4 linked regions of the Homo sapiens genome follow. The protein of the gene in region 1 interacts with the protein of each later gene in a pairwise test. Each region holds a gene or a part of one and is shown in the gene's direction. Other genes may lie near its edges.

What was found.
Region 2: the proteins of LUC7L2 (region 1) and SRPK2 interact in binary tests that used the Homo sapiens proteins (3 or more experiments, as listed by UniProt).
Region 3: the proteins of LUC7L2 (region 1) and NFYA interact in binary tests that used the Homo sapiens proteins (3 or more experiments, as listed by UniProt).
Region 4: the proteins of LUC7L2 (region 1) and SRRM4 interact in binary tests that used the Homo sapiens proteins (3 or more experiments, as listed by UniProt).

Annotation. Positions count from the first base shown.
Region 1 is NC_000007.14:139,418,734-139,425,193, forward strand, and holds the end of LUC7L2 (putative RNA-binding protein Luc7-like 2), read left to right. Parts: intron 1-3,429; coding exon 3,430-3,607; 3' UTR 3,608-4,721; downstream 4,722-6,460. Other genes in the region: FMC1-LUC7L2 readthrough protein, read left to right, coding at 3,430-3,607. UniProt on the Homo sapiens protein: May bind to RNA via its Arg/Ser-rich domain.
Region 2 is NC_000007.14:105,378,388-105,386,786, reverse strand, and holds part of SRPK2 (SRSF protein kinase 2), read left to right. Parts: intron 1-8,399. UniProt on the Homo sapiens protein: Serine/arginine-rich protein-specific kinase which specifically phosphorylates its substrates at serine residues located in regions rich in arginine/serine dipeptides, known as RS domains and is involved in the phosphorylation of SR splicing factors and the regulation of splicing.
Region 3 is NC_000006.12:41,075,408-41,083,806, forward strand, and holds part of NFYA (nuclear transcription factor Y subunit alpha), read left to right. Parts: intron 1-69; exon of another isoform or gene 70-291; intron 292-3,621; 5' UTR 3,622-3,682; coding exon 3,683-3,757; intron 3,758-5,403; coding exon 5,404-5,490; intron 5,491-8,399. UniProt on the Homo sapiens protein: Component of the sequence-specific heterotrimeric transcription factor (NF-Y) which specifically recognizes a 5'-CCAAT-3' box motif found in the promoters of its target genes.
Region 4 is NC_000012.12:118,976,443-118,985,265, forward strand, and holds the start of SRRM4 (serine/arginine repetitive matrix protein 4), read left to right. Parts: upstream 1-5,098; 5' UTR 5,099-5,440; coding exon 5,441-5,571; intron 5,572-8,823. UniProt on the Homo sapiens protein: Splicing factor specifically required for neural cell differentiation.

The DNA of each region.
Region 1 (6,460 bases):
ATTAATTGTATATGTTTTACTGTACTAGACTTAGTAAAACATAAGAAAGACGTATAACATAGTTGAACAACTTTAAGTTGCTCTAAGAAGTTTCCTATGTGAGGCTGGGTGCCATGGCTCACGCTTATAATCCCAGCACTTTGGGAGACCGAGATGGGCGTATCACTTGAGATCAGGAGTTCAAGACCAGCCTGGCCAACCAACCCCATCTCTACTAAAATACAAACATTAGCCGGGCATGGTGGCACATGCCTGTAATCCCAGCTACTCAGGAGGCTGAGGAAGGAGAATTGCTTGAACACAAAGGTGGAGGTTGCAGTGAGCCAAGATCGCACCACTGCACTCCAGCCTGGGTGACAGAGCGAGACTCCAGCTCTCAAAACAAAAAAAAACAAACAAAAAAAAAAACAAAAAGTCTCCTATGTGAGTTAGAACAAAGGATTGACATCTTTGACAATAATTAGACTGGCATAAGACTACCACATGTTATAAAGTGCTAAACTGCATATCATAGAATAAATGATCCGAGAGTTTAGATGAGGCAAATAACAGAGTAATCAAAAATGGCTTCAGGTAGTCGGTAAAATTTGAACAGGTAGAATCAGCTAGGAAAAAGATATTCCATATAGAGTGAATATCCTAGGCAAATGCAGAGAATGAGGAGGGAGTTTGTAAAGGACAGAGTGATTTGTAGGCCTCTTATCTCACACTCTTGAAACTGATTTTGGGGGTCTACCCTCAGTGCAGTGTTCAGAAATAAGCATTTTTTAAAAGTTACCTGTCTTATCTGCACAATGAATTTTCAGAATTATCCTGCTAGGTGATGGAAGGTTTAGACATTTTCCTGTGTCAAATCTGCCCAACTGTCATTGTTGTTGCTGAACTCCTAAATGTCTTTATTGGTGATGGGTATGGGAAGGATGGGCGTGAAGTCCCCTAATCTGAGATTGTGTTATTTTAGTCCCTGATGCTTCCTGCGTTGATGAAGTTGTATAGGAATTTTTCCACCATACATGATACATGATCATATCTAAGATGTCAGCATGTTCATAAAGAGGATTATTTTTGTAAAACTATTAAAAGTTTTGCTTTTCTCGAGCACTTTCTCATCTTTGAATTCAAATTATTCTCTTTTAAAGCATCATTCTTTGTTTTATACTAAAAATTACCAGATAATTGCTGTTAAAACCTACTTGGTATTTCATACAACATCAAGTTATTGCTACATATTTGGGTTTAATTTTTCAAGGTAAAAGTTCTTATTGAAAGCCTTTTATGTTTTGCTGTTCTCCTTTCCCTACTGTGAAATACTTGTCTCTGATACAAGTAGATTCTTTGTGACCTCTTCCTGGCAATAGTGCCCTGCGTAAATGAGGACCATTTGCATCTATCTATCTTTTTGCTCTGTTCAAACATGTTTAGTGCAGACTCCAAAGTCAGATTACTTGGGTTCATTGGTTTAGGCTAAGTAATTTATTTTTTTTTTTGAGACGAGAGTCTCGTTCTGTCACCCAGGCTGGAGGGCAGTGGCGCGATCTCGGCTCGTTGCAACCTCTGCCTTGCGGGTTCAAGCGATTCTTTTGCCTCGGCCTCCCAAGTAGCTGGGATTACAGGCCCAGGCCACCACACCTGGCTATTTTTGTATTTTTAGTAGGGACAGGGTTACGCCATGTTGGCCGGGCTGGTCTCAAACTCCCGACCTCAGGTGATCCACCTGCCTTGGCCTCCCAAAATGCTGGGATTACAGGCATGAGCCACCACGTCCCACCTTGGCTAAGTAATTTATAACTATCTCACCTGTCTTTCCCCATCTACTAAGTGGAGAAAGTAAGAATACCTGCTTTGTTAAGATTATTGGTAGTTTGAGTAAAATAGTATATGGAAACCACTATGTGTGGGACATAGTAGTTGATACTCATAGTTTTTTAGTTATTACTGATCACTGGGACTGTTTGGCATCTAGTGTCTTTTTAGGTATCATTTTTACCATCTCTTTTCATATTTTATTCCAACAAAGGCTATGGATAGGACTAGTGTAGACGTGGAATCACTAGACTTGGCACTGTGATTTTTTGTTGTTGTTGAGATGGAGTCTTGCTCTGTCACCCAGGCTGGAGTGCAGTAATGCGATCTGGGCTCACTGCAGCCTCCGCCTCCCAGGTTCAAGTGATTCTCCTGCCTCAGCCTCCCGAGTAGCTGGGACTACAGGCACACGCCACCACTCTCAGCTAATTTTTTGTATTTTAAGTAGAGACGGGGGTTTCACTATGTTGGCTAGGCTGGTCTTGAACTCCTGACCTCAAGTGATCTGCCTGCCTTGGCCTCCCAAAGTGCTGGGATTACAGGCGTGAGTCACCGTGCCCAGTCTTTTTATATCATTTTAAGTTTATTAAAACATTAAGTAGAATGTTCAAAGTGGACATTATTTTAGAACCATTTTTTGTTTAACCCTCCTTAACTATATTTCTAAAACTGAACAGTCATATTTTTTATTTTCCTGAAAGTATTACTTATTCAGGTTCTTGGTAGTGCCTCAGATCCTAATTTTGAATATGGGTTGAGTGAGATAATTATGTAAAAGTGCTGTGTCACCTGTAAAGAACCAAATAAATGTAATTTGTTGAATTTTAGATGTTGGAAGTATGGAAGATTCCATGTTTATTCTGATTCCATAATATGTTTGGTTTTCCGATTGATTTATTATTTACCTTTCTTATAATGAAGTTGGGTATGGGAATGGAGAAGGTAGTAAACAGTTATGGCTAATCAAGATTTATTAGTGTGAGCATCTTTGTCTTTTTTTATTTCCCCTTGTTGGTTGAATAAGCTAACTCAGTATGAGTAGATTTTTAGAAGTGGTTATTTAAATTCATATTAATAATTGAGTAGTTCTCTTATCTAAGTCAGGTGTTGGCAAACTGTTGCCGATAGGCCAAATCTGGCCGGTAGCCTGTACAACCAGCAAGCTATGGATGGTTTTTACATTCTAAAAAGAAAAGAACTGCCACAAAGATTGCATGGACCTGCAGTACCCCAGATAGTCACCATCTGGCCCCTATTCTAAGCCATTTAAAATTTAGATAATACATTTCTTTCACTTTTTAAAGCTGTTATCTATGTATTATTTTTTATATTAAAATACCTTTTATGAATTGGAGAAACTCTGTGTTGTCTCTGAGATGAGAGTAGCCTGTAAGAAATTATTTTAGCCTTCTGACCCTCTGCTATTTGTTTTTCACCCATCTTCTTGTTTTAATGCCCTTATCAACTATGGTAGTGCTCTGTAATTTGTCAGAAAACTGACTCCTCTGTCATGGGTATATTCGTCTATATATCTTCAGCTATCAAGAGCTTAATATTTATCCTATTCTTTAATTTGGGTTTTTGGGTTTCCCAACATATTTTGCTCCTCAAATTAATATTTTTCAGATCCTCAAAAGAAAGATTCAGAGACCAAGACTTAGCATCATGTGACAGAGACAGGAGTTCAAGAGACAGATCACCTCGTGACAGAGATCGGAAAGATAAGAAGCGGTCCTATGAGAGTGCTAATGGCAGATCAGAAGACAGGAGGAGCTCTGAAGAGCGCGAAGCAGGGGAGATCTAACTAGCTGTGTACATTTCTTCAGTCCTTAAGCTTCCTACGGAGTTACGTACTATTGTTTAGTTCACAGCTGTTCAGGGTGACAGTGAGCAGATCCAGACACCAGATCCAGCTAGGCTAGATGTACAGTATCTAACTTGATCTGAACTGAACCTGTTTTCCTTGATGATGCCTAAAACTACATCCATAGTTTCTGGTGAACCTGTAATACAGTTCTGAAAGTACAGTTTTATATAATAAGATGCTGATCTCTTTATTCTTTCAAGTAAGAGTGCTAGTGAACAAATTGTGTTACTTGCCTTGGGATTTTTTGAACGTTTGTAAAATGCTGTCTTCCTAGTCCAAACAGCTGCAGCTTTGGGCATTTTTCTTTTTAATTATTCTTCCTCTGACTTTGTATCCCTTAATACCTACACTCTCCAATTGTAAGAGAAAGGGGGCAGGGAAGCAATATAGCTTCCATTCTAAGGCTGTATTCCCGTTATGAATTACTAGCTGATTACAGTTCAGAGCATTGATCCTGGAATGTGTGCTGGAGAAATTTAAAATACTGGGGTTTTTTGTTTAATGGTGCCTATTTAGAGTTGGAAGTTGAACAGCTGTTGCATTACATACTTTTGCTTTTTTATTGAAATTTTGAAATCAAACGTCTTGATTTTTCTGTTCTGTTGAATTGCTATGTTCAGGATGTTCTAGGGGGTGGGGGCAGGGACTCTTTTCGTAATAAGCACTTGTTTTATTTTGTGTGTGTGGAGTATAAAGGCTACACCCTTATTGTAAAAAAATAATAATAATAAAATGAAAGAAACAATCACCACCACCATTATTAAACTGTAACTTGTCTAGTAAATTGTCACTAGAACTATTTGCTGTGGGCATTTCCTCTATTCTGTTACGTCATTAACAGTGCCTTACTGTGCAAGGCACCAAAGGACATAAATACGTACTTGCAAAGATTCCAGATGAGCTGTTCATGTGGGCCCCTTGCTGACTATATTCCAGCCACTTCAGGGTTGTTTGTAATGACCGTTATAGAGAAGGGCTCGACCTGCAGAAGAAACTGGGGTGTTTTTATTCTCATTCAACAAACCCAAATAAAAACAGTATATGTAACCAACATAATGAGACTTAAGTTTCTGCCTTGAAGAGTTGTATATCCGTTAGTAACTTAAACTGTAATTGGCAGGTATCACTTGTGATTCTGGAAATTCTGAGGAACACAGATTCCTTAAGTAATGAAATTAGTATCTGTGGGTATCATTAACTAAGGTCACCTTTCAAGAACTGTTAATGTCCTTTGTCCCCAAGTTTGACAGATTTGATGTCAGAGGCATGTGGGCCTCTGTGAAGGTGCTGAGAGAATGGGAAACTAAGGCCATTCTAAGTGATACCAGATTACGTTAAAAACCCTCATCAAGTTCCCAATTTACCAAGCTATGCCTCATTAACTGAGGGTTTTCTGCTGTATTTGGTTCCACACATGCAATTTATATGGCATTTAATCTGAGAGACCCATCTGCCTCAGTGGCCCATTTCCCTTTTATTTTTGGTTGCTAAGAAATGTTTTGTATCTCCTTTGTTCCGGGTAGTCTGTGCTGTTCTAAATCCTTACAAGCACTTCAGATTTCGTACATTGGGGTTCGGAGTAAGATCAAAAGGACTAGCTGGTTGGTGTGAGGAAGAATGTCTGGGACCTGGCCCATTATAATAGTATATCTGGACTTAGATTTTGAACTCTAAAGCATATGTACAGTTGGAATGGAACACTTGTAGAAGTAACACAGGTCTATATATCAATGGTTACTGCAGCTGTGGTTTCTAGATGGTATAGGCTGCCCCAACATGAACAGGGCATAAAGCGCACCATCACTGTGGGGCTGCGTGCCACAGCGGACCACTTCAACCGCATGGCTCTTTACATGATTGATGCCACTGAATTAGAATAAAATCTCAAATCTTAATATCACTTTCTCATACACAATTTTTGGTCTTTCTGTGTTGGTGACTGGTAGAAAGCATAAGTAAGTATATTGTATTTGCAAAAAACTTTTGTCCCTCTGGGGAGTGTTTTGCTAAGTTTTTACCTTCAGTAAGGTTTCCTTCATTTTGCTGTCATCAAGTATTACCCTAAAGCTCCTTTGCTGAGCTTATCAACACCAACTAAAACTAAGGAAAAAAGCCTCCTTAAATAGGTATGTTTTTTATTTTTTTGAGACGGAGTTTCACTCTTGTTGCCCAGGCTGGAGTGCAATGGTGCAATCTCAGCTCACTGCAACTTCCGCCTCCTGGGTTCAAGCAATTCTTCTGCCTCAGCCTCCCGAGTAGCTGGGATTATAGACGTGCACCACCACGTCCGGCTAATTTTTGTATTTTTAGTAGAGACGGGGTTTCGCCGTGTTGCCCAGGCTGGTCTTGAACTGCTGGCCTCAGGTGATAGGCCCGCCTCGGCCTCCCAAAGTGCTGGGAGTATAAGGCATGAGCAACCCCTCCCTGCCCTACCCCTGCCAGGCTTGTTTTTTTTTTTTTTTTTTTTGTTTTTTGTTTTTTTTTTGTTTTTTTTTTTGTTTTTTTTTTTTTTGAGACGGAGTCTCGCTCTGTCGCCCAGGCCGGACTGCGGACTGCAGTGGCGCAATCTCGGCTCACTGCAAGCTCCGCTTCCCGGGTTCACGCCATTCTCCTGCCTCAGCCTCCCGAGTAGCTGGGACTACAGGCGCCCGCCACCGCGCCCGGCTAATTTTTTGTATTTTTTTTTAGTAGAGACGGGGTTTCACCTTGTTAGCCAGGATGGTCTCGATCTCCTGACCTCATGATCCACCCGCCTCGGCCTCCCAAAGTGCTGGGATTACAGGCGTGAGC
Region 2 (8,399 bases), about 34 Mb from region 1:
TGATTGAGGCATTGCCATTTTTCACTTAACTCTTTGAATCAAGTCATAATTTTATTTAATAATTTTTTTGAGGCAGAGTTTCGCTCTTGTCGCTCAGGCTGGAGTGCAATGGCCCAATCTTGGCTCACTGCAACCTCCGCCTCCCAGGTTCAAGGGATTCTCCTGCCTCAGCCTCCTGAGTAGCTGGGATTACAGGCACCCGCCACCAAGCCTAGCTATTTTTTTTGTATTTTTTAGTAGAGACGGGGTTTCACCATGTTGGCCGGGCTGGTCTACAACTCCTGACTTCAGGTGATTCACCGGCCTCGGCCTCCCACACAGCTGGGATTACAGGTGTGAGCCACCGTGCCCGACCTGAATCAAGATATTATTTAAAAGAACTGTTTGATGTTATTTATTTATTCATGTCTTCAATAGGTATTTACATGTCTGTCTTCGGAGATGGTGTTAGAGGTTGTTTTTTTTTTTTTTTTGAGACCGAGTCTTGCTCTGTTGCCCAGGCTGGAGGGCAGTGGCGCGATCTCGGCTCACTGCAAGCTCCGCCTCCCGAATTCACGCCATTCTCCTGCCTCAGCCTCCTGAGTAGCTGGGACTACAGGCGCCCGCCACCACGCCCGGCTAATATTTTGTATTTTTAGTAGAGGTGGGGTTTCACCGTGTTAGCCAGGATGGTGTCGATCTCCTGACCTCGTGATTCGCCCGCCTCGGCCTCCTAAAGTGCTGGGATTACAGGCGTGAGCCACCAAGCCCGGCCGGTGATAGAGTTTTGAACAAGACAAAGCTCCTTGCAAAGCTAACCTTGGGAGGTTTGGGGAAAACCACAAAGAGGGTGACAAGATAATTTCAGATAGGGCTAAGGGATAGGAAGAAAATGAAGATGGGACATGTTAAGTAATAATAATAGATGACATTTGAACACTGTGCCAGTCACTCTGTCGATTGTTTTACATATACCTTGTGACAACCCTAAGAGGTAGGCACCGTTATTACGGACATTTTACAGGTGAAACAGGGACACAGGAAAAGTAAGTAACATGCCCAGCTGTTGAATCAAGGCAGCCCGGGACCAGAGTCCACTCTCTGAGAAATGGCATTTGGGCAGGATCGAGAATGAGGAGGAGATCCAGTGTGGCAGAGGCCCTGGGGAGGAATGGGCTGGAAGTATTCGAGAAACCCAAAAGTAAGAGTGGCCTGAGTGGCCCAGAGAGGTTGATGGGAGGCAGGAGTCAGAGCGTGTCTACCCTCGTAGGCCATTGGAGGCTTACATGTGGAAGGGACAGGTTCTGATTCCTGTTTAAAAAGAGGGCTGCTGTCCGGGCGCGGTGGCTCACGCCTGTAATCCCAGCACTTTGGGAGGCCGAGGCGGGCGGATCACGAGGTCAGGAGATCAAGACCATCCTGGCTAACACCCCGTCTCTACTAAAAATACAAAAACAAAATTAGCCCGGCATGGTGGCGGGCGCCTGTAGTCTCAGCTACTCGGGAGGCTGAGGCGAGAGAATGGCGTGAACCTGGAAGGCGGAGCTTGCAGTGAGCCGGGATTGTGCCACTGCACTCCAGCTTGGGCGACAGAGCGAGACTCCATCTCAAAAAAAAAAAAAAAAAAAAAAAAAAATGCCGGGCGCGGTGGCTCACGCCTGTAATCCCAGCACTTTGGGAGGCCGAGGCGGGCGGATCACGAGGTCAGGAGATCGAGACCATCCTGGCTAACACGGTGAAACCCCGTCCCTACTAAAAATATAAAAAATTAGCTGGGCGTGTGGGCGCCTGTAGTCCCAGCTACTCGGGAGGCTGAGGCAGGAGAATGGCGTGAACCCGGGAGGCGGAGCTTGCAGTGAGCCGAGATTGCGCCACTGCACTCCAGCCTGGGCGACAGAGCCAGACTCCGTCTCAAAAAAAAAAAAAGGTTGCTATGTGGAGAATAGATTGTGGGGATGGGGGTAGTAGTGGAAACAGAAGTGGCCTGCAGTAGTGCATGGGAAACCGGGTGACGTTGAGTGTGTGAGGAGTGGCACCTGAGAAGTGGTAAAAGAATCTCCAGGAGACTAGTATTTTCAGGGTACCCCGAATTTTACAGACAGCTCTGACAGGTTAAGCCCACAATAGCTTCGTTTGGATCAGAATTCAGGTCTCTTGAAGCACGGTTTTTGCTTTTTGATTAATTTTCCAGAGGAGGAAAAGGAGTAATAGGTATAATTTTAAACTATTAATATGATGACTGGCAAACTTGAATTATGTGACTGTGGGTCTGGCTTGGTATAATATGATTTACTTTTGTCATTATCTACTTTTGTATATACAAGCAGGCTTTTAATTAATTTTAGTTCATTTCAAATCTGTGAGCTTTTATGAATTGAGCCAGTTCCTAGAGGCTACTTTTATGGTACACTGGAAATTGTAGTTGTCAGGAATAAGATTAAGATTATTTAGTGGGTCAAAATTTTAATCCTGTTAGATTGTCCTGTGAGTTTAGTTTGCTTATTATTAATTGTGCTGCTTTGTGAGTAACAGGCAGAACGGAAGGACTGTAGTGCTGTTTAGTCACAAATCTTAGGAATTAGCTACATCACATAGCTTGGGATAAATTTTTGCCTTATAGTATGTTTATATGGAGGTACAATTTTTAAAATATCTCTTTCATTTATTTTTTTCATAACTTTTATTGGGATATAGTTCACATACCATAAAATTTACCTTTTAAAGTAGGCCATTTACAGATTTTTAGTCTATTCATTAAATTGTGCAGCCGTTATCTAATTCTATAACATTTTCACTTCCCCAGAAAGAAACTCCATATTTATTTCCCAGTTATTCTCCATTCCCCTTCCCCCTGCGTTGGCAACAACTAATTTACATTCTAAGTCTCTATGAATCTGCTTATTCTGAACATTTCATGTAAATGGAATATACAGTATGTGGCTTTGTCTGGTTTCCTTAGAACAATGTTTTCAAGGTTCATCCATGTTATGGCACGTATTAGTACTTAATTCCTTTATATTGTTGAATAGTTGTGTCAATATGCCACATTTTATCCATTTATCCATTGTTCCTTAAAATTTTTCTATTTCTGGCCAGGCGTGGTGGCTCATGCCTGTAATCCCAGCACTTTGGGAGGATGAGGTGGGCGGATCACGAGGTCAATAGTTCGAGACCAGCCTGGCCAATAGGGTGAAACCCCGTCTCTACTAAAAATACAAAAATTGCCTGGCATGGTAGTGTGCTCCTGCAGTTCCAGCTACTCGGGAGGCTGAGGCAGAAGAATTGCTTGAACCTGGGAGACGGAGGTTGTGGTGAGCCGAGATCATGCCGCTGCACTCCAGCCTGGGTGACAGAGCGACACTCCGTCTCAATTAAAAAAAAAAAAAAATTCTGTTTTGTTTTTTGTTCTTGTAAAATTTTTATTAAAACATTTAATTTTGAGGCCGGGTGCGGTGGCTCATGCCTATAATCCCAGCACTTTGGGAGGCTGAGGTGGGCAGATCACGAGGTCAGGAGATCGAGACCATCCTGGCTACGGTGAAACCCCGTCTCTACTAAAAAAAAAAATACAAAAAATTAGCCGGGCATGGTGGCGGGCACCTATAGTCCCAGCTAGTTGGGAGGCTGAGGCGGGAGAATGGCGTGAACCCAGGAGGCGGAGCTTGCAGTGAACCGAGATTGTGCCACTGCACTCCAGCCTGGGCGATAGAGCGAGACTCTGTCTCCAAAAAAAAAAAAAAAAAAAAAAAAAAAATTTTTACTTTTGAAATAATTTCAGACTCACAAGACCTTGCAAAAGTGGTACAGAGTTCTTTGTGTACTCTTTATTCAACTTCCCTGACGTTGATATCTTAACCATAGAACATTGTTGAAACCAATAAATTGACATTGAGACAATGTTATTAATTCAAGAAAGATTTTACTTGGATTTTATCAGTTTTACATGCACTCTCTGTGTAGTTCTAACAAATTGTGTCACTTGTGTAGATTAGAATAATCACCACAGTCAGGATGCCAAACTGTTTCATTACCACAAAGAACAGTCACTCTCTCTTCAAATCTAAGCTTGGGAAACACTGATCTGTTCTCTATCACTTAATGTTGCCACTTTGAGAATGTTATATAAATGGAATTATACAGTATGTCACCTTTTGTGATTCGCCTTTTTTCATGCAGCGTAATGCCCTTGAGATTCATCCATGTTGTTGCCTGTGTGAGCAGAGCATTCCTTTTTTTTTTTTTTTTTTTTTTTTTTGAGATGGAGTTTTGCTCTTGTTGCCCAGGCTGGAGTGCAGTGGCACGATCTTGGCTCACCGTAACCTCCGCTTCCTGGGTTTAAGCGATTCTCCTGACTTAGCCTCCTGAGTAGCTGGGATTACAGGCATGTGCCACCATGCCAGGCTAATTTTGTATTTTAAGTAGAGACGGGGTTTCTCCACTTTGGTCAGGCTGGTCTCGAGCTCCTGACCTCAGGTGATCCACCCGCCTTGGCATCCCAAAGTGCTGGGATTATAGGCATGAGCCACCGTGCCTGGCTGTGCTTTCCTTTTTATTGGTAACAAGTATTCCATTGTGTGGATTAACAGTTTATTCACAGGCTAAAGGATATCTGGGTATACTTTGCTTCTACTTTTTTTTTTGAGATGGCATCTTGCTCTGTCGCCCAGGCTGGAGTGCACTGGCGCAATCATGGCTCACTGCACCTGCCACCTCCCAGGTTCAAGCGATTCTCCTGGCTCAGCCTCCCAAGTAGCTGGGACTACAGGCATGTGCCACCACGCCTGGCTAATTTTTGTATTTTTAGTAGAGATGGGGTTTCACCATCTTGGTCAGGCTGGTTACGAACTCCTGGCCTCAAATGATCTGCCTGCCTTAGCCTCCCAAAGTGTTGGGATTACAGGCGTGAGCCACCGTGCCCAGCTTGGTGAGACAGTTTTGGAATGTAATGATACAAGTTTATATCCTTATTCAGTAAGCCTCAACCCTTGAATTTATACTTCCCTGTAGTATAAATTCAAGCTCATAAGCCCATGACTTTGGAATACTTCTCATGGATTACCTAATTTTCATTTCTTATTTTTTTACACATTTGTTTATTCAACAAACATTTTTGCTTACTACCTCTACAGTAGAATACAGTAAATGGACACGAAGCAAATACCTAGTGCTGCAGATAGCTAGTGCCAGGGTGTGTGTTGGATGCTAGAAGAGTAAGATAATTAAAGTAGAAGAGATTGCTTTGTGAAAAGACCATTGCAGGACAGTGTGATGAGAACTGTAAGATTTAGGTACAGTAGTGCTTAGTTTTTTTGTTTTTGTTTTGTTTTGTTTTGTTTTTTCGAGATGGAGTCTTGCTCTGTTGCCCAGGCTGGACTGCAGTGGCCTGGTCTTGGCTCACTGAGACAGGGTTTCGCCATATTGGCCAGGCTGGTCTCAAGCTCCTGACGTCATGATCTACCTGCCTTGGCCTCACAAAGCGTTGGGATTACAGGCTTGAGCCACTGCGCCTGGCCAGATTTCATTTTAATATTGTCATTTTAATGAAATAACTTTTTTTTTTTTTCTTGAGGCAGTCTTGCTCTGTCACCCAGACAGGAATGCAGTGGCATGATCTTGGCTCAGTGTAACCTCTGCCTCCTGGGTTCAGGCGCTCCTCATGCCTCAGCCTCCCAAGTAGCTGGGATTACAGGCATGCGCCACCATGCCCAGCTTATTTTCTTTGTATTTTTAGTAGAGCCTGGTCAGGAACTCCTGGCCTAAGCCTCAAGTGATCTGCCTGCCTCAGCCTTCCAAAATGCTGGGATTACAGTCATGAGCTACTGCCCCTGGCCCAGCTTTTTTTTTTTTTTTTTTTTTTTTTAAAGTAATAAAAGTAATATGGTCATGGTAAAAAATTCAGTACAGAATTCAGTATAATACAGAAGATTTAAGAAGCAAGTGTCAGCTGTGGCTCCACTAATTATTTTTAATTTAAAAATTTTTTAGCAGCTGGGCGTGGTAGCTTACGCCTGTAATCCCAGCGCTTTGGGAGGCCGAGGTGGGCAGATCACAAGGTCAGGAGATCAAGACCATCCTGACCAACATGGCGAAACCCCGTCTCTTCTAAAAATACAAAAATTAGCCAGGCGTGGTGGCATGTGCCTATAATCCCAGCTATGCAGGAGGGTGAGGCGGGAGAATTGCTTGAACCCGGGAGGCAGAGCTTGCAGTGAGCTGAGATGGCGCCACTGCACTCCAGCCTGGGCGACAGAGCGAGACTCCATCTCAAAAAAAAAAAAAAAAAAAATTTTAGCATGTTAATTTAGGGTATCTAATTGTTTTGGTGTGTTATTCTTTTACTTGTGCATGGTTTTGTTCATTTTTCAAAAATTGAGTCCTAGCATACATGTATATGCATGTATGTAAAGTGCATTGATCTTTTAAAGATCAGTGAGGATCACTAGAGGTCAGGAGTTTGAGACCAGCCTGGCCAACATGATGAAACCCCGTCTCTACTAAAAATACAGAAATTAGCTGGGAGTGGTGGCACATGCCTGTAGTCCCAGCTATTCCAGAGTCCGAGGTGGGAGAATTGCTTGAACACGGGAGATAGAGGTTGCTTTGAGCTGAGATTGCACCACTTAGTGCCAGCCTGGGCGACGCAGTGAAACTCCCTCTTAAGGATAAAACATCATTTTTAATTTTAATTTTCTTTTTTAGAGATAGGATCTTGCTTTGTTGCCTAGGCCGCTTTCACCCTCTTGGGTTTGGGTGATACCCCACCTAAGCCTCCCAAGTAGCTGGGACTGCAGGTGCCTACCACCATGCCTGGCAGTGCACTCATATTTTTTTGAGACGGAGTCTTGCTCTTTCGCTAGGCTGGTGTGCAGTGGCGCTATCTCAGCTCACTGCAACCTCCGCTTCCCCGATTCAAGCCATTCTCCTGCCTCAGCCTCCTGAGTAGCTGGGAGTACAGGCTCGTGCCACCACTCCCCAGCTAATTTTTGTATTTTTAGTAGAGACGAGGTTTCACCATGTTGGCCGGGCTGGTCTCGATCTCCTGACCTTGTGATCTGCCCGCCTCGGCTTCCCAAAGTGCTGGGATTACAGGCGTGAGCCACCACGCCTGGCCCAGTGCATTCGTCTTAATTGTACAGTTTGATGATTTTTTTTACATTTATTTATACCCCTGTAACGACCATGTAGATCAGTATATAAAACCCCTTCAATGCTCCATAAGTTTTCTCATGCCTCTCCCGAGTCTATACTCTACCACCTAGGAGCAACAACTTTTTTGATATCTATCATTATTGATTAGTTTTGTCTGTTCTTGAATTTCATATAAATGAAATCATATAGAATATACAGTCATCCCTCAGTACGCTTGGAGGATTGGTTCTGGGACACCCTCAAATAACAAAGTCTGAGGATACTCAAGTCCCTTGTAACCTTCACACATCCTCCTGTATATTTTAAATTATCTCTGGATTACTAATAATATATATACAATGTAAATACCATGTCAATGGTTGTTACATGGTGTTTTTTTAATTTGTAGTTTTTATTTTGTTATTATTTATTTACTTTTGATTGTTTTTGATTCATGATTGGTTGAACCTATGGATGCAGAGTCCACAGTTTCAGAGGGCTGACTTTATATATATATATATATTTTTTTTTAGAGACTGGGTCTTGCTTTGTTGGCTGACAGTGGCACAATCATAGCTCACTGCCACCTCAAATTCCTGGCCTCAAATGATCCTCCTGCCTCAGGCTGCTGAGTAGCTGGGACTACATGTGAGCACCACCATGCCCAGCTGATTTTAAAATTTTTTGTAGAGATGGGATCTCCCTATGTTGCCCAGGCTCAAAGATGTAGTTTTGATTGAACTACTTTACTCTCCCACAAGTGTAAAGACACTTAAGTTTGCTTCACATTTTTGCCCACACTTGGCAGTGTCATTGTAATAAATTTTACCTATTATGGGTGTGTATTGATATTTCATTATGGTTTTCAATTGCATTTTCCTGAGTAATGATGTTAAACATCATTTTTTTTTTTTTTTTGAGACGGAGTCTTTCTCTGTTGCCAGACTGGATTGCAGTGGCATGATCTCGGCTCACTGCAACCTCCACCACCTGAGTACAAGCAATTCTCCTGCCTCAGCCTCCTGAGTAGCTGGGACTACAGGTGTGTGCCACCGTGCCCAGCTAATTTTTGTATTTTTGGTAGAGATGGGGTTTCACCATGTTGGCCAGGATGGTCTTGATCTCTTGACTTCGTGATCTGCCCACCTCGGCCTCCCAAAGTGCTGGGATTACAGGCGTGAGCCACCAGGCCCAGCCAACATCTTTTCATATGTTTCTTGGTCATTTGAGTTTCCTGTTTTGTGAAGCGCCTTTTTAAGTCTTTTGCCCCCTACCCTTTAAAAAAAATATTG
Region 3 (8,399 bases), on another chromosome or scaffold:
ATCACTAAATACTTTTGCTTGGCATCTTTCTAAAAGGCATTATAATCTGGTAACTTTTTTGCTAAATACCTTACAAGCTTCCACCAGTCTGCAGAAGAATTTCTTTGTCTGACATTTTGAGAGAAAGTAGTGTGGCCCCAAGCTTTTTTTCCTGTTTAGTCCACTGTTCACATGCTGAAATATTTCTGTTCTTGTTTTTATGCTCTCTTGATTTGTAGTACTTCACCTTCCTCCACATCATCACATAGCTAAATCTTTCTCACACTTAAGACCAGTTCATCCTGCAGGCCTCTGATAGCAAAGAAAAAAAAAGTTCAAGTAGTACCTTTTTTTTTTTAAGCCTTGTTGATTTATCCCCAGCTGGAACAAATCTCTGTCCTCCAAATTCCCATATCACTTTATCTCTTAGGATTCCAGTATAGGTTTTTAGTCCATTACTAAACTTAAAGACTCTTTGAAGTTTGAATCTTCGTCAGAGATTTCTTTTTATTTTTAAAACCTTCAGAACAGTGTCTGGCACATGGTACATAATTAGTGGAGAGAAGTGCATTAGAAAGCTCCAATCCAGAAATCTGTAGGATGATGGGGAAGCTGGACAGCCCTTTGTTGTAGTCTAGTCTTTCATCAAGCGTCTATCAGGACCCACTTGTTGAGTTGTGAAAGAAATTGAGTGAGCCAATGCTGGGAATTTTTAAATAATAGAATAGAAAATATCTGCCAGGCATGATGATGGCTCACGACTGTAATCCCAGCACTTTGGGAAGCCGAAGTGGGAGAATCCTTTGAGCTCAGGAGTTTGAGACCAGCCTGGGTAGCATAGGGAGACCCCCTCTCTTAAAAGAAAAAAAAGAATAGAAAATACCAAAGTGCATCTTGTGTTGTATAAAGGTAAATGCTGTTTCATGAAACTTTCATTTCAGTTACATGCTTTATACATGTGTGCACTGAGTTGTGATAATGAAATGTGTTTCTTACTAAGGGTTGTGGTCAAAAAAGTTAAAAAGCTACTGTTCTAGGCTTTGCCTGGTAGTGATTATCAACTGTGATAATCCTATGGCTTTTCATATGCTTACACTAGTTGAGTTTCTGAAGAGGTTTTAGCTTTGGAGTTTGTGTAGGTCCACATAGAATGGGTTCCTAGTAAGTGGTTGGCTAAGTCTCAGCTTTTGCACCTTGGAATAGTGGGGCAAAGAGAATTGCACTGAGAAGAGAATGCACTAGGAAGAGAATTTTCATGCTAGCCAGAATAAACACTTATTATTTGTTTCTCTCTCTTTGAGGAAAAACCATTCAAAACTTTGTGTTAAGAGCAAGAGCTAGACAGACTAAATCTGGCTTAGTTTGTCATAATCTTGGGCAAAGAGGCACTTTGGGAAAGACTATCGAATTGTATTGCAGTCTTGCTAACTGAAGCTCACAGTAGTAGGAACATATGACTTTACTGAAGCCAGTTGCTTATAGCATTAACCATTAACAGTATCAATATCATGATACAGGCTAAATCACTCTGTCATTAATGTGAGAGAGAATTGCTGCTAGATTTGAAGCTGCTCTTCAAATCTTGATACTCTTCAAAGTATAAATTTAAATATTGCTAAATTGGTTCATTTGTATTACCAGAATAAACTAGTTAAGAAGAAAATCTGTACGTTACATATATTAGTCATTATGTGCTTCAAGTTATATTTAGTCTTGTAAAGATGTAAACTTCTGGATATTAGTCAAGGAAAAAATCTCATATAAGAAGGAAATTTGGAGTTGGGGAGGCGTTGAAACCTAAAAGACATTCCTTTCATGATCCTTATTTTTTAAAATCAATTTATTGAGAGATACTTTAGAAACAAAGTATAATAATTTTAAATGTGTATTTTGATGAGTTTTGACAAATTTGTACACCTGTGCAACTGCTACCACAATGAAGATATAAAACATTTTCATCACCCTACAATGTTCCTAAGGCTCCATGCCAGTCAACCTCCCTCTTTCCTGTCTCCCTGTATTCTCCACTCCCAAGGAACCACTGATCCATTTTCTGTCTCTAGATTACTGATGTCTTTTGGAGATTTTATATAAATGGAATCATATATATTCGTTTACATCATAACCTTAATTTTATTAGTTTATAGCCATAAATGTATTGTGTATTAGAGACAAGATAGAATTTAGGGAAGCCTGTTAGTGCCCCTAACAGACTCACAGTCTGGCTGAAAACCTGATTTTCTATTCTATACCCAGAATCTCTGAGGAGCAGACTTAGTCAACCAATTCCAAAGAGACTGGTGTAAAAATCAGAAAACCGGTTTGTCATGTTGCTGATTATATTTGCTCCCTGTTGGCCAATCTATATGTAAATCCAAATTATAGCTAGAAATTTACCTAGCGAGCATTCCATTAGATCAAGGGCAGTGCTTTGGAGAACCATATGGCCACAAGTCCTCTTGCTGTGATGACATAGCCTGTTATTTATGGCTCATAGATTCTTATGTTGTATCCATTTTGGTTATGAGTAATGGGGTTGATTAATTTTTATTTTGATTAAATTTTGTTATATTTTTCCTAACATTCCAACATTCATTTGGGAAATAAGAATTTCTCAAAATTCTTATTCTAGAAATAAGAATTTTCAAGTGTGCAGTGAAATCAAAGGAATTTGAAAATAAACACCTGTATACCTGCCAGTTAGGGTCTATTAACATCTTACTATAATTGCCTTACCAGATATTTCTCCACCCATTCATCCATTTTTTGATGCATTTCAAAGTAAATTTTAGATATCAATACACTTCTTTCTAAGTACTTGGACATATAGTTGCACATATTTTGGTTTCTTCTTTCACACTGTATTGAGACACCTTGCAAATGATTAATTCCACCAGCATGTGTGGATTTATGGAGAGTGGTACTGTACTTTGCCACGATAATGAGCAGCTCAGTTAGGTCACGTCATTTTATTATTCAGATGTTGGAATTTATGAGGGCCTAGTGAAAAATCAGAGAGAAAGACCTATCTACATTTTTGTTTATATATCTGTCCTCCCTCCCATATTTCCAAGATGAATTGCCGATTGCTAACTTATATCATTTTAATTTTTTAATGAAGTCTTTATTAAAGGTTCTCAGATATCATTCAGTTTATCTAATTGTATCCTTATTTTTAAAAGTGGATCTTCAACTCTTAAAGTCTATGAGAAGGGTAAATTTTGCCTACCATATGTAGTGGACCTGAGTAACATGTTTGGTGGGAAGCAATTACGTGTTACAACTTAAAGAAGCTTTATTCTCTAAAGTATATGTGCAAACCTGAAAATCAGTGTTAGGTATGCCTTGTATCAAAGTGATGTAGCTTAACGAGTATCTCTTAGGTGCAAGTATTGCTCTGACAGTATTGAAAGGTAAGGTTGCCAGTATACTGAAAGCATTTTAGAAACGTGAAAATAGCATTATGTTGTTATGATTGTGCCATGTAATCCCAGTTAAAAATGATACTGAATATAAGCATTTCCTATTCTCCTATCCTGTTTTCTTGCAAATAAAGTACAGTGATAAATTATCCAGGTTAATTGTCTGGTAAGGCCTTTATTGACAATCTCACTTTAGTTTCTTTCCCCACCTTTCTAACAGGAGTGTACCTCACAGCCTTCTAGGATCTCCAGAGTGGACAGGAATCTCACTTGGAGGGACCATGGAGCAGTATACAGCAAACAGCAATAGTTCGACAGAGCAGATTGTTGTCCAGGCAGGACAGATTCAGCAGCAGGTATGGAAGCAAAACTGCTTTAAACATTACAGCAATGAAACTGATAACAGCACCACTCAATTGGTTGGTCTATTGCCCTGGGGAATTATTTGAAAGATACCAGATCTTGTGAGATATTGGGTCTGATGGCTTGTGCTGAAATGCCATGTCTAGCCCATGACCACTTAGAATCTACTCTTCATGGGTGCCTGGTTATAGTAAATTGCCTCTTTTATCTCATTTTAAGTAAAAACATCTAGTCTGGTTTTCAGATGGAAATTTGGACTTTAAAATTTTTCTGGATTCTATTTGGTCTTTTTCTCTTCTTGTTTGAGCTAACTTGTGATTTAGTAAGTCTTTGGCCACAACAGACAAACCAACATAGCTTCCAATAAATCTTCTGTTTTTTGATTTGGTCTGCCACATTTTTTATTCAGAAAAGCTCTGGTTTAACATTAGGATAATATTTAGACAGCCATTCTTATGGATAAGACATACTAGAAAGGAATTCCCTGCTGCTGGTTTATTCCTAATTAATAGATTGCTTTCTTGAATTTATACACAGGTTACATTTTCTGATGCTTTATGCTTGGGTTTATTATAGTAAAATTTCACTTTTTTCCCCACCCCAGAAGAAAAAAATGTATTATGTTTCTATTTGACCTTAGGCCAAGATTGATATTTTGGAAATACTTTGTTTTCAAAATGGAATTTAGCTAATATAGAAAAGTAGTAGGGAAGGGAAAGGTAGTATTGATGATGAGTTTTTCCCGTCTAATGATCAAAGACGAACTCCCCTGATAGCTTTCCCTTCCATACAGCTGCTGTGGCTCTGGCAGTTTCCTTCAACTGCCTTTTTAGAGGAAGGGATTCCACAAAGGGCCCTCCATTCACACCAGTGCCCTGGAGGGTGGGTTTTTATTCTTTCAGAATTTGCCATTAGTGGATGTAAAAATAAGGTTGAATCATTGAAAACATGGCTCTTAAAGCAGTCCAGTTGGGTAGAAATAATCTTAGTTTTGAAGCTGGGCATGGTGCTGCATGCCTGTAATCCCAGCTACTCTGGAGGCTGAGACAGGAAGGTTGGCTTAAGCCCAGGAATTCAAGACCAGCCTGGGCAAAACAGCAAGACCCCATCTCAAAATAAGTACATAAATAAAGTTTAAAAAAAAAAGAATCTTAGTTTTGGGACATGAGAGCATTGACGTCATGAAGATGATTTCGGTTCATAGTGATTAATTACTCCTCCTTTCTTGGTGATTGCATTTAAGCCCAGAATTTTTTATGGTAGTTTCAGGGCTATTAAAACCTAATCATTTTTTTCTTGTGAACTCATCTGAGGAGATAAAAAGGGCATTAAACAATTGTGTAAGTAGAAGTGTCAGATTCCTGTTTCTGGAGGGAAAGATTGCATTACAAATCTTTGTGTTAATGATGACAACTGTTTTGAGTTTTTGAGTCAAATTTTTGAGGTCCACTCTGGAGACAAAGGGCTAATATCTTTAATCCTACTACCTTCAACAAAACAGCTTCAATATAGGGAGTCTGTACATTTTGAAAGTCCTTCAGGCTTCCGTCTCTCTCCTCCAAGAGGTAAGGTGATCTGTGTCTTGAACTACACATTTCCTTCCTGACATATTTCAAGCTCTTCCTGTTCCTGTTCTCAGCAGCAGGGTGGTGTCACTGCTGTGCAGTTGCAGACTGAGGCCCAGGTGGCATCCGCCTCAGGCCAGCAAGTCCAGACCCTCCAGGTAGTGGTACCCTCTCTGATTCTCTGTGAGCACTGCATGAACTTCTCCTCTCCTCATGTCTGGTGCTGTTTGTGTTAGGATCTCCAGTAGGAATGGCAAAGTCAGTTGCATGTCTTTGATGCTGCTAACTTGTCTTTGAGGCTTATAAGATGCCAGTTTCCTAATATTTCATGCCAAGTCATATAGAGACCCCGTATCAACTTTCTGAGAATTGGATTTGACTAGCATGTTTCTTTGAGAATGCCTGGAAAAGAAATGGTATAAGTGACAGGAAGAAATTCTTATAAGTGACATTAGAATTTATTCAGGGCTCGGCCGGGCGCGGTGGCTCACGCCTGTAATCCCAGCACTTTGGGAGGCCGAGGCAGGCGGATCACGAGGTCAGGAGATCGAGACCATCCTGGCAAACATGGTGAAACCCTGTCTCTACTAAAAATACAAAAAAATTAGCCGGGCATGGTGGCGGGCACCTGTAGTCCCAGCTACTTGGGAGGCTGGAGCAGGAGAATGGCGTGAACCCAGGAGGCAGAGCTTGCAGTGAGCAGAGATTGCGCCACTGCACTCCAGCCTGGGTGACAGAGCGAGACTCCGTCTCAAAAAAAAAAAAAAGAATTTATTCAGGGCTCACACTCTGATCCAATTAATTGCATGGTAAAAATTTTGTGTATTTGTGTTACAATGGAGAAGGAAATATATACATATACAGACACACATAAACTAGGCTAGGCTGTGCTTTATTTTTATTCAAGGGGCAACTCAACTGAAAAATAATCATTGCACTTGGCAAGGTTTATCTAAGCACTGAATCTTGTTAATCTCTTGTTAACTGCTATTGTTTCCACTACCTTTCCTGGGGGAATAGTGACCTGTCTTATTACTAGATCTGCAAAGATTACCCCAGATACCTCTTGGTTAGGCAGAAGCAGGATGTGCTTTCTGTAAGTCTTAGGTGTTAAAGCCACTGTGATAATTCTTGGTTAATCAATACAGTTCTTTAGCATCGTGTATGGCTAAGTATCCTAAATTGGGTTCTAATTTGGCCAGTTCCTATAAAACACAGGAGTAGCAGCACTAGTCTACTCTGTGTATGTAGGTTACTTTTATTAAAATAACTCTATTTTTGAGAAATTGGCAAGATTTGGGTACCCTACTTTTTCCCTCCATTGAATTAGAAATGATTCAAAGTAGAATCTAGAATGTAGAACTGGCATCTCACTTTATTGCTAGTGCTGCTAAGCATCCAGCAGATAACTACCTCTTATTGTCATCACTTTATCCTTTCAATCCCACCCCTACCCCTGCCACCAATAGTGTTTGGTAATGATGTACAGCCAACTTTGAACATAAATTAAGCCGAAAGAAACTGAGCTTGTAGGCATTCCAAAATTGTGTTCAAATCTCACAGTCCAACAGCTTGTTAATGTTTTTCATGCTTGCTTCATCTTACTCATATATAAAACAGTATTTTGGATTGTCATTAACCCCTTGTGGAATAGGAATGTAACATGCTCTTAACTGTATGGCTTCTTGTTTGATGCATGTGTCTTTGTAACATTTTTCTGTTGTAAATACAGTGAGCTCTTTGGAGTCTCAAATCATTTATCATGTGCACGAATAGCACATCAATTGGGGAGGAAATTAAGATGATGAATAGATAGAAAATTATTAATAGCTGTATCTTAAAACTTGTGTTTCCTACTTACATAGATTTTATTTAAAAGAAGTGGAAACACTTTATGGAAATAATAGAAACCTTTCCTCTAGGGATCTGATTATTTTGGGAGAATTTTAAATAGTTATTTTGGTTATTCTTGCTATATGTATTCTGAGAAATCTTTCTTGATACAGAATATGCAAGCATTTGGTGTAGCAAAGGGGATTTGATTTGGAATGGGGAAATAAGGGAAAGAGATAGCATGAGAGAGTCAGGCTGTAAAGTCCTTAAAAAAGTAAAGTAAAGGTTCTCAATGGACAGTTTAACAAAACTTAGGATTTCAATGTTCCTGGTGATTCTAATACATTAGTGGTGGTGGCAGTGGCGGCGGTGGTGGTGGTGATTGTAGGAGGACCTTACTATCTAACCTACTCATCTAGGACAGAATGATCTGTTAACTAATTGCTGTTACTTGCACATACTTTCATTAAGTGTGAATATTTCAGTCATGAATATTCTGTTCTAAGTAATTTCTGTCAAAGATAGAGTCTGAAAATGAAAATTTTGGACTATTCCATGGATCATTACAGTTTACTTCTAAAGCACTTTTAAAGTGCTTCCAGAAAGCATTCTATTAGGTATTTTTGTATTGGGACTTAAGATGTGACAGAGCACTTGTAGTGACCTGGCTCCTACAGTAGTCTGTTTACTCATAGGAGCTTGAAATTTGTACACTTGACTGCTCTGTGTAATTTCAATATTTGTTGTTGCTTCTGATAAAGCTAAAATAACCATGTGGATATTATAGAGGCCAGTGAGGAATTCCACCATGGAGACTGCAAACTGACCAGAAAGTGCTTTTAAGAAATCTTTAGTAGTGAGTTTAAACAACAAACATATCTAGAATTCACAGAGTAAAATGAGCAGGATAAAGGTATACATTTGACATTTCATTTTAGCTTGAGAGACTGTAGGGAAAAAAGGGTCATCCTCTACATAAGCTTCCAGAGCTGCTTGCTACCCAGCCTCCTAGAGTCATTGCTGGGTACAGTTTGATTTACCTTCTTCACTTTATTTAGAATTTGTACTCAACCACCATCACCACCATCACCTTTCCCTCTCATTGCCTTCTCTCCAGCCTTCACTACAGACCATTCCTGGATTGGTTTAAACAGGCAACTAACCTTGCCATTATGATTAAATGTTTGTCATGGATTTAGCCCGTGTTTGGTGACAAATGCCTTATATCTATTGAGAC
Region 4 (8,823 bases), on another chromosome or scaffold:
GTCTTGTAGAATCTTGGGATCTATGCAGTTGGAAGGAGGCTTTCTGGTTTATCCATACTAGTCCAGGAGTATCTGAAGTAGTGCACATGTATGTTCCAGAAGAGGAATGGACAATAAACAACAGAGGTGGGATTCAGGTTAGACACAAGGTAGAACTTTCAAGAAGTGAGGATTAAAGGAAGAAGTCAAATTGGGAACGAAGAAGTCAAGAAGTGAGGATTGATAAACATTGAGTAGTGCAATCATATTTTTCTCCCCAAATAAATAATCTTGTAATTTGAATGGTTTAGCATGATCTTGTTTAAAGACATAAAGACCGATGAATTGGTCTCATTATCATATTTCCCATCATCTCAGTAATTATTTGAATCTTTTGCTGTTCCCTGGACTTTTAGAAATGGGTACAGACTGTCAAGTTCTCTGATGCTGGTAGATAATGGTTGGCTCCATTGTACTCAGAGAAATCGTGGACACAGAAAGATTAAGAGATTTACCCAAGGTAACATGGTAATGTTAGTGAGGTGGGATTTGAACTGCCTCAGGAGAAGGGGTAGCTATTTCTCTGAGCTGGAGGTGCTGTATCTTTGGATCACTAAGGAGAAGGTTGCATAAGAATCTTCTTAGCTCCTGCTCTAGAGTGCCTGGGTTTGCAAAGTTTAGAATCATTTCTCCCTGCTGTCCCTTTTTTCAAATGAAAGAACAATACCAATCAGGTAAAGAAACATTCTCTAGACATGGATGGCAAATTGATTTTATCTGGAATGCCAAGACCAAACTATTAGTAGTGGCTATCTAGAAACTGTGTGTTAAGAAGGATTCTGAGGGTCGGTCTGAGAAAGAGTATTGTGAAGGATCAGTGATGTCTACCATCAGTATAGCACAGAGGGCAAGGAATAATTGTGCCATAAGTTTATATTCATTAACCAGCATATTAATAGGTCCTTGTTTATGGGGTGGGCTGGCTTGCATCTGGGGAAACAGAAAGCAATACCCGGAAGGAATGAGGCACAAGATGGTTCTATTTTAATAAAGTGATGGAGGAACTGGAGTTCACGTTATATTGGAGAAGCCAGACCTAAAGCAGAAGTCACTGTGATAAGATGAAAAGGGGACAAGTGTTAGTCAGTGGAGACCCAGAAGGAGAATTAGGCTGTGAACTGCTTCAGGGAAGGGACTATGTCTGGTTTGTCTTTGAGTCCTCCGTGCCCAGGACTGTGCCTGGCCAAGATGCAAGATTGGGCATCAGTTAATGATTATTGAACTGAATATGGCCTGACTTAACATAGTAACAGGTGATTATTCCAAGATCATGAGCAAGAAGAGCTACCATTGAATGGTCACTTGCTATAAACTGGACAATTTATTAAGTCCTTTACCAGTAATATTTCATTTAATCTTCCCAACCACGATGTGATATCTCCACTTTTGCAAATGAGGAAACAAAGGCAGAGGTTAGTTATTAGCCCAAGCTCATACAGCTACAAAGTGGCAGAGCTGGGCTTCATATCCTAGTTCTCTCTAAATCCACAGGCTGGGCTTTTAACCACTTGAGTAATTGATATTTTTGAGTAAACTGTGTTTCAGACACATTCTAGAACCTGTATGTGTGTTAATTCCTTCAATCCTCACAGCTAGTTCATCTAAACATATTATTTATAATCTTTATAGAATCTTCATGAAACCCCATCTCTACTAAAAATACAAAAAAAATTAGCTGGGCCGTCGTGGCAGGCGCCTGCAATCCCAGCTACTAGTGAGGCTGAGAAAGGAGAATGGCTTGAACCTGAGAGGCGGAGGTTGCAGTGAGCTGAGATCACACCACTGCATTTCAGCCTGGGCAACAGAGCGAGACTCTGTCTCAAAAAAAAATTCTTCATAGTATTGATAAAGAAACTGTGACATAGGCAAGTGAAATCCCTCCTCCAACATTACACAGCTAGGAAATGGCAGAGCTGGAATTTGAAGCCAGGCATTCTGGATTCCAAGTCCTGAACTGATTACTGCAGACTCCCAATTTAGGAACCTCAACACCAGGTGCTTCTAAGTATGTGACTCATTGTTATCTGATTTATTTTTAAATGGTGGTCCATCCTGATATGCGTAGTATCCCACTCCATCCTCCACCCCACCAAGCAAAAACAGAAACTGTATTTTTCACAAATTTCCTTTGCTTCCTACAGGATCACCCTGGGGAAGTCACTTGGTCATCCTCAACTTCTTCATGTTTAAAACAGAGTAAGATCGAATAGCAGGTCTACGTTTTTTAACTTTTATTTTAAGTTCAGGGGTACAAGCGCAGGTTTGTTACATAGGTAGACTTGTGTCACGGGGGTTCGTCGAACAGATTATTTCATCACCCAGGTATTTAGCCTAGTACCCATTAGTTATTTCTCCTGATCCTCTCCCTCCTCCCAACTTCCACCCTCCAAAAGGCCCCAGTGTGTGTTATTCCCATCTATATGCCCATGTGTTCTCATCATTTAGCTCCCATTTATAAGTGAGAACATGTGGTATCAGGTTTTCTGTTCCTATGTTAGTTTGCTAAGGATAATGACCTCCAGCTCCACTCATGTCCCTGCAAAGGACATGATATTCTTTTCATGGCTGCGTAGTATTCCATGGTGTATATGTACCACAACTTCTTTATCCAGTCTATCACTGATGGGCATTTAGGTTGATTCCATGTCTTTGCTATTGTGAGTAGTGCTGCAGTGAACATACACATGCATGTGTCTTTATAAAAGAATGAGCAGGTCTACTTTTAGTTCTTTGAGAAATCTTCATACTGTTTTCCATAGTTGTTGTACCAATTTACATCCACACCAACAGTGTATAACTGTTCCCTTTTCACTGCATCTACACCATCTATTTTTTTTTTTTACTTTTTAATAATGGCCTTTTGGGGGTAAGGTACTATTCGGGTGACAGGTATGTAAAAGCCCAGACTTCATCACTATACAATTCATCCATGTAACCAAAAAACACTTGCACCCTTAAAGCTATTGAAATAAGATAAATAAATAAAATAGAATAAGATCAGCTTTCTCTCCCACCTCATCTGGCTACGATGGGATTTTAAAAAGGCAATGTTTTGCATATGGGAGCTCTATCAACATTTTAGGGATTAGGAGCAGGCACACAACTGGAAGATGTTGACTGATCTTGTGGGGGTAGGATCCCACCTACCTCTCTCCTGCAAGTGACTCAGTTCATACCCTAAATGTCATGACTAAGGTTAGTTTTAAAGATGCCAGTCTGCTACCTATAAGAAGCCAGCTCTAGATTGCATTTACAATGATACCAACTTCTGGGTGGGAAACGGGGGTCTAGCCCAATCAGGGAATGGGGGATTTGGGGCGCAAGGTAAGAGGGAGAGGAAGGGAAGGGGTTAGCCTAGTCTCCACTTTGCTCCATCTCCAACCTTCCCAGGCCTGACCCCCACCTCTGGGCCCTCTCCCCCGGCAACCCACATAAGAAGCCAGCAAATGCACCTCTCGTTGTTGACCAGAAGGGGTCACTGCAGAGCAAGTAGCGCTCTCAGGCACTCAAATAAGCGGACGCAGGCGTGTCGAACACACACACTTCAAACGTAGATACCCTTTGGGGCGGGTACTCATTTACTCCAAGGTTCTTTCTTCTCCTGCCCCATCTTATCCTCTCTGTTGGCCTCTTCATCTTCACCTCCTAGTTACCTCCTGTTCCCCTTCAGAGAATTTCTGGAGTTCCCATTGTTCTCCCGACCCCCCCGCCCTACCCCGCCCTCATTGGGTCCCCATTGCTATCTGCTTTAGCAAAGAGCAGGAGTTTATTCTCGCTGTGACTGGGACTCAGCACCAGGTGCTTGGAGGCATTTAAGACTGAGCGAGGCCTCCTTCCAGGAATTTACAGCCTGGAAAGTGGAAGCGGGGTTGGGGGGAGGGGGAGGGCGTTAGGTGGGAGATGGGGGAGTAACAACTCTGCTAAGATTAAAAGGCTTCCAGGAAGGCAAGGGCTGAGGGGTCCCGCCACGATCTCTTTTTTTTATAATGAAAACCCTGGGGGAAAACAAGAGTCATTCTAACCAGATCTTCTGTGTCTGGGGTTGATTTGGGATTCTAAACCTCCACTTGCTTGGGATTACGATTGAACTGCGAGGCGGTAAGGAGATGGGGAGGAGAGACCGAAAAGTAACTATCCCCCTGCTAATCCTCGAGATTTTCCTCTCCAACCCTCCCACTAAGCGCTTTCTTTTCCAAAACGTACTCCTTTCCCGAGACTAGCGGCATTAGGAAAAGTGGCTGCAGGCGGATTCCCCAGGAGTGGATGGGGGTGGGGTGGGGTGAGATGGGAACTCTTTCCTCTGGACGGGGTTGGCGGCGGGGACGCTGGGCAGGCCGGCTGTGAGACACAAAAGAGATACCCTTGACAGCTCCGCATGCACAGATGTAACGCTGCGCCCCTTGGCGGGCGGGGGCCCTGCTCGGCAGATGGCGAGAAGCCGAATTGGTGAGGGATTGTCTATCAAATGGCACTTTCTGGGTGGTGGAGACCTCGCTAACCCCCGGCGCAAAGAGGAACGCAGGGCACCCTCTGTACCGGCCTAGGCCGTGTCTCCCAAAAGTGAGGGTCTGGGGGAGGCCGGCTGGGGTGGATAGATTAAGTTTTTTACGAGCCCCCCCAACCCCCCCCCCCCCCCCACGCAGAAGATCAGCTACAAGACTTGCGAAGGGGCTGGAAAGAAAGGTGGCCTGGCCCAAAGGGGGCACCCAGGAAAGGGCTGAGGAAGGCCAGCGATGATGGGAGAGGAGAGGGGCCTGGGAAGCAGGATCTCCTGCCTGGCGCAGATTGGGGTGCCAGGATGGCTTCTCAGAGGGATCAGCGCTGCAACTCGGTCGCCGCGGGGCCCTGGTGACAGGCGCACGCCCCGCCCTTTCTCCTCCCAAGACCTGCGGGCTTTTGTTATGCAGATGGCGGCAGGAGGCTGAGCCTGAGGAGGAGGGGGTTGGTGGGGAGGAGGAGAGACGGAGAGGGGGGAGGAAAGTGCAGCTCGCGCGACCAGCCTCCTCTTCCAACGTCACATTGTGCGAGAGACAAAACCCGGGCGCGCCGGAGCTCACACGCGCACGCACACACATCCGACCCCGTCGCCTCTTCTCTCCTGGTGCTGCCCAGAAAGCCAGCCCTCCCTTCCCTTCTTGGGGCGCAGAGGCTCAGCCAGCTCAGAGCGCAGCCTGGAGCCGACCCAGAAGGGCGAAGAAAGCCCAGCGGACGAGCCTCCTTTCTCTGCTGCCTGCCCGGGCTGGGGCGTCCCATCCCCCGCCCTGAACTCCGATCTCTCCCACCCCACCCCTCTCTGGGTTTCACCCGGACAGAGCCGGGAGCTGGGTGTCGCCCCCGTTTGGAATCCACGTTTCAGCACTTTGGACAGCGCCCCGGACGCCCCGGCCCCTTTGGGTTGGCGATGGCGAGCGTTCAGCAAGGCGAGAAGCAGCTTTTTGAGAAGTTCTGGCGAGGAACCTTCAAAGCGGTGGCCACCCCCCGTCCCGAGAGCATCATTGTCGCCAGTATCACGGCCCGCAAGCCGCTGCCAAGGTAATGATCTCCTTCTTAGAAGGGGGGATCCTGAAGGTCCTCCTTTCTGGCCTGTGCCCCAGAGCCCGGAGGGGTGGATGCAGGCAGCCGGGCCAGGGCGCCTGTCTTTTCCCGTCACTACTCGGCGGCTCCCGCTGAAACATGGGAACTCATTGCTTGTGTGAGGTGGAAGATGGTGAGAAGGGACAGGAATTCTTTGGGGGAAAGCAACGCTTATTGGACCCCCGTAGCTCCTATTCAAGAGGTTTTGCTACCTGAGGGTGGGCGGTGCAGATGGGGTACGACTTGACTGAAAAACTTTTCTTGGTGTCACAGAGTCCAGAGGGCAGGTGGGCCAAGGAATGGTGGATTTGAGATGTTTGGGGGGTGTTGTACCAGAAAAGGAGAACTGAGCCAGCTCAAGCAGCGTTCAGAGATAGCACACATTTCCATCCTCGGCTCGGAAACTAGCGAGCTTTGAACATTTTTGACAAAAGCCCATATGCTGTTCCCTCAAATACACCCAAAACAGCACCCTCCTCCACGCCTTTCTGGCGGCTGCTGCCGCTGCTGCTGAATTCTCTCCTCTCCAGCATCCAAAACCAAGACTCTGAGCTCAGGAGTCAGGGAGGAGCCTTCCAAGATCGTGAAGATGATCTTGGAAGAGTTTTATTTTGTTTTTTTTTGTTTTTTTTTTTTTTTTCCAAAAAGAATCTGATTGCTTTGAACTCAGGGATGAGAACCGATCCTTGGATGGTGGTAGACATGGTGCTGATGGAAGGAAGAATAAGGGAAGAAATGAAAGAAACAGGGGAACAGGAGGTGGGGTGAGAGGGAGAGGAGGTTGGGGGAAAATGGAAGCATTCCAAGACAGAGAAAAATCCAATTCTTTTCATAAATCATTCAATTTAGAGGAGTTTAAGAATGAAGGGAAGAAGGCTGTGCTCTCTGTCAGGGAAAATCAAGGTAGTATGAAAACTCATCTTTTGCTGGTGTTGGATGAGTGGTTTAGTAGGAGAAAAGAAAGAAGTGGACCAGGGGGACCACTTGGAGGATTTATTAATCCTGGCAGTCTGCATTAGGGAGCAGATTGAAAACATGTCTGCAAAAGTGCTTAGGACAGACTGAACGTCTGTTCTGGCACAACTGATTCTGAACTTTCCAGTGAGTGTGAGGTGGAAGACGTATGGGAAATTATGTCTGAAGAATCAAAGCCAGATTGGAGAAGTTTTCCTCTTCACTGTCTTATTGAGGATCATACAGGTCTTTAGAGAAATAGGTGTCCCATTTAGGAATGGGTGGCCAAGCATCACAACAGGCCAGTAGGGTGTAGCAGGCTTCAAGCTAAAGCAGCACCAGCCAGTGTTTGCAGACGGGAAGGAGGGGACACCCACCCACCCACTGACACAGGCTGGAGAAGGGGAACAATAATACCAAATGCCATTAAAGGCTGATGCTTCTCTGCTCCGAAGGAGGTTCTGTGTATAGAGTTTTGACGTCAGTGGTTTTTATCTTCCTGGGTTTCTGCTATCTATTCCACCTTTGGAACGTACCTACTGTTGGCTAATCAGGTGCTGCACTGGCCAAAGAAAATGCCCTTGTAGAAGGAACTAGAGGAAATTTCACAGGAAACTAGAAGTATGGCATTTAGTCCAGAGTCTTCCATCTATTTTAGGGGTGCAGGGAGAGGAAAGCGGATTCTTGGTGGTGTTTTGATTCAGGAAAGCACACCTATTATCTGCCTTGCTTGGTACTTTCCACTTTTGTCTGTCTCTCTGTTACTGTCCTGCCCTTTTCTTGGTCATATTTGCAATCACATGAATGGCCCACAAGGTCTTTCAACCCTCATCCTTTCTGCAGCTTTTTGCTAATTCTAATGTAATCCTGAGACTTTTATAATACTCCACTCCCCCTCTGCAACCAGTATCATTTCACTCTTGGTGCCTTTTAATGTCGTGGGTCTCCTTTGCCCTAGAAACCACCCCTGAGGTGAAAGCCTGAACCATAAGCCCTGGATTTATGTCACGCTAGGAGAATCCTGTGTAATACTTCTGTAATAGGCGTGGCCTCTCTGTAGAACAGATTCCGGTTTTATAACTGTTACTCCTGGTTTGGGGTAGAGAGTGAGAAGGGAACATTTGTTTCCAAGTCCTCAGGAAAGGTTGGATTGGAGTTGTCTTTTAACAGACTGGATAAAACCTGAATCATCCCCATTCTCACCCAAGCCAGCCACATCCAGTGACATTCAATTTCCACTTCCTTTTCAACATTCTACACTTACTTAAGGGTGAAAGTACCATGTTTCCAAAGCTGAGTTCTCAAGAGGAAAGAAGACAGAGGCATTGGCACAATATCAGCTGGGTTTGGGTGGCTTCCTCTAGAGGCAATCTGGGGACTTGGTCTCATCAGAAATGTCGTTTAGTTCCATGAGTCAAGCCCAGATCACAGTCGGCAAACCAGCACATGTAGCAGTCTGCAGGGGGATGGCAGGGAGTGGGTGGAGGAACCACTAGTCAGTCCTGTTGGTGTCACACTTAATATTTGTTTATAGATGAAGGCCACCCCTCTGAATAAACTTCCTCAGGATATTTTAAGTCTATCTCTCAAGGTAATTTAGTACCAGGATAGAAACATATATTCAATTCATTGATTTCATAGCAATATGCATACATCATGCAACTGCAATCTAAGCAACCCCCTGCTTAGTCTCTCTTTCTCCTCTACCCCTCTGTGGGGCATACTTGATGAGGCAATAGCTTTATAATGTATCAAATTGCAACCAGATGTCTGCCTCAAATGTCAGAACAGTAGAGCAGAGTGGGAAGCAGTATATCATAGTGGTTAAGAGCTCAGACTTGAGCATGAGACAACCTGGATTCCTGTCCTGGTTCTATCATTTACTAGCTGTGTATCCTGAACAAATAGTTTTACCACACTGAGCTTGAAAATAGAAATAATAACAGTAACCCCTCAGACAACAGGTTGTAAGGATTTAGTTAGGTAAAGCTCTACCCCTATGTGTGGTGCATGGTGTTGTTTAGTAGACATTGACTCTGGAACAAAGCTTATAGTGGCCAAAAGGAAAGCAACAACTCCTCATCATTGTGTTCTCCATGCCTACCCATTTCTCCCCCAAGTAATGCTGACCATTTTTATTGGGATTTCAACTCCTGATGGACAACTACATTCAGATGAAGTTAACACACATGAGGCAGGGTAGAGAGTGGTCCCATAATCCTCGTCTCTGAGAAGAGGCTAACTGCTTTCTGATCT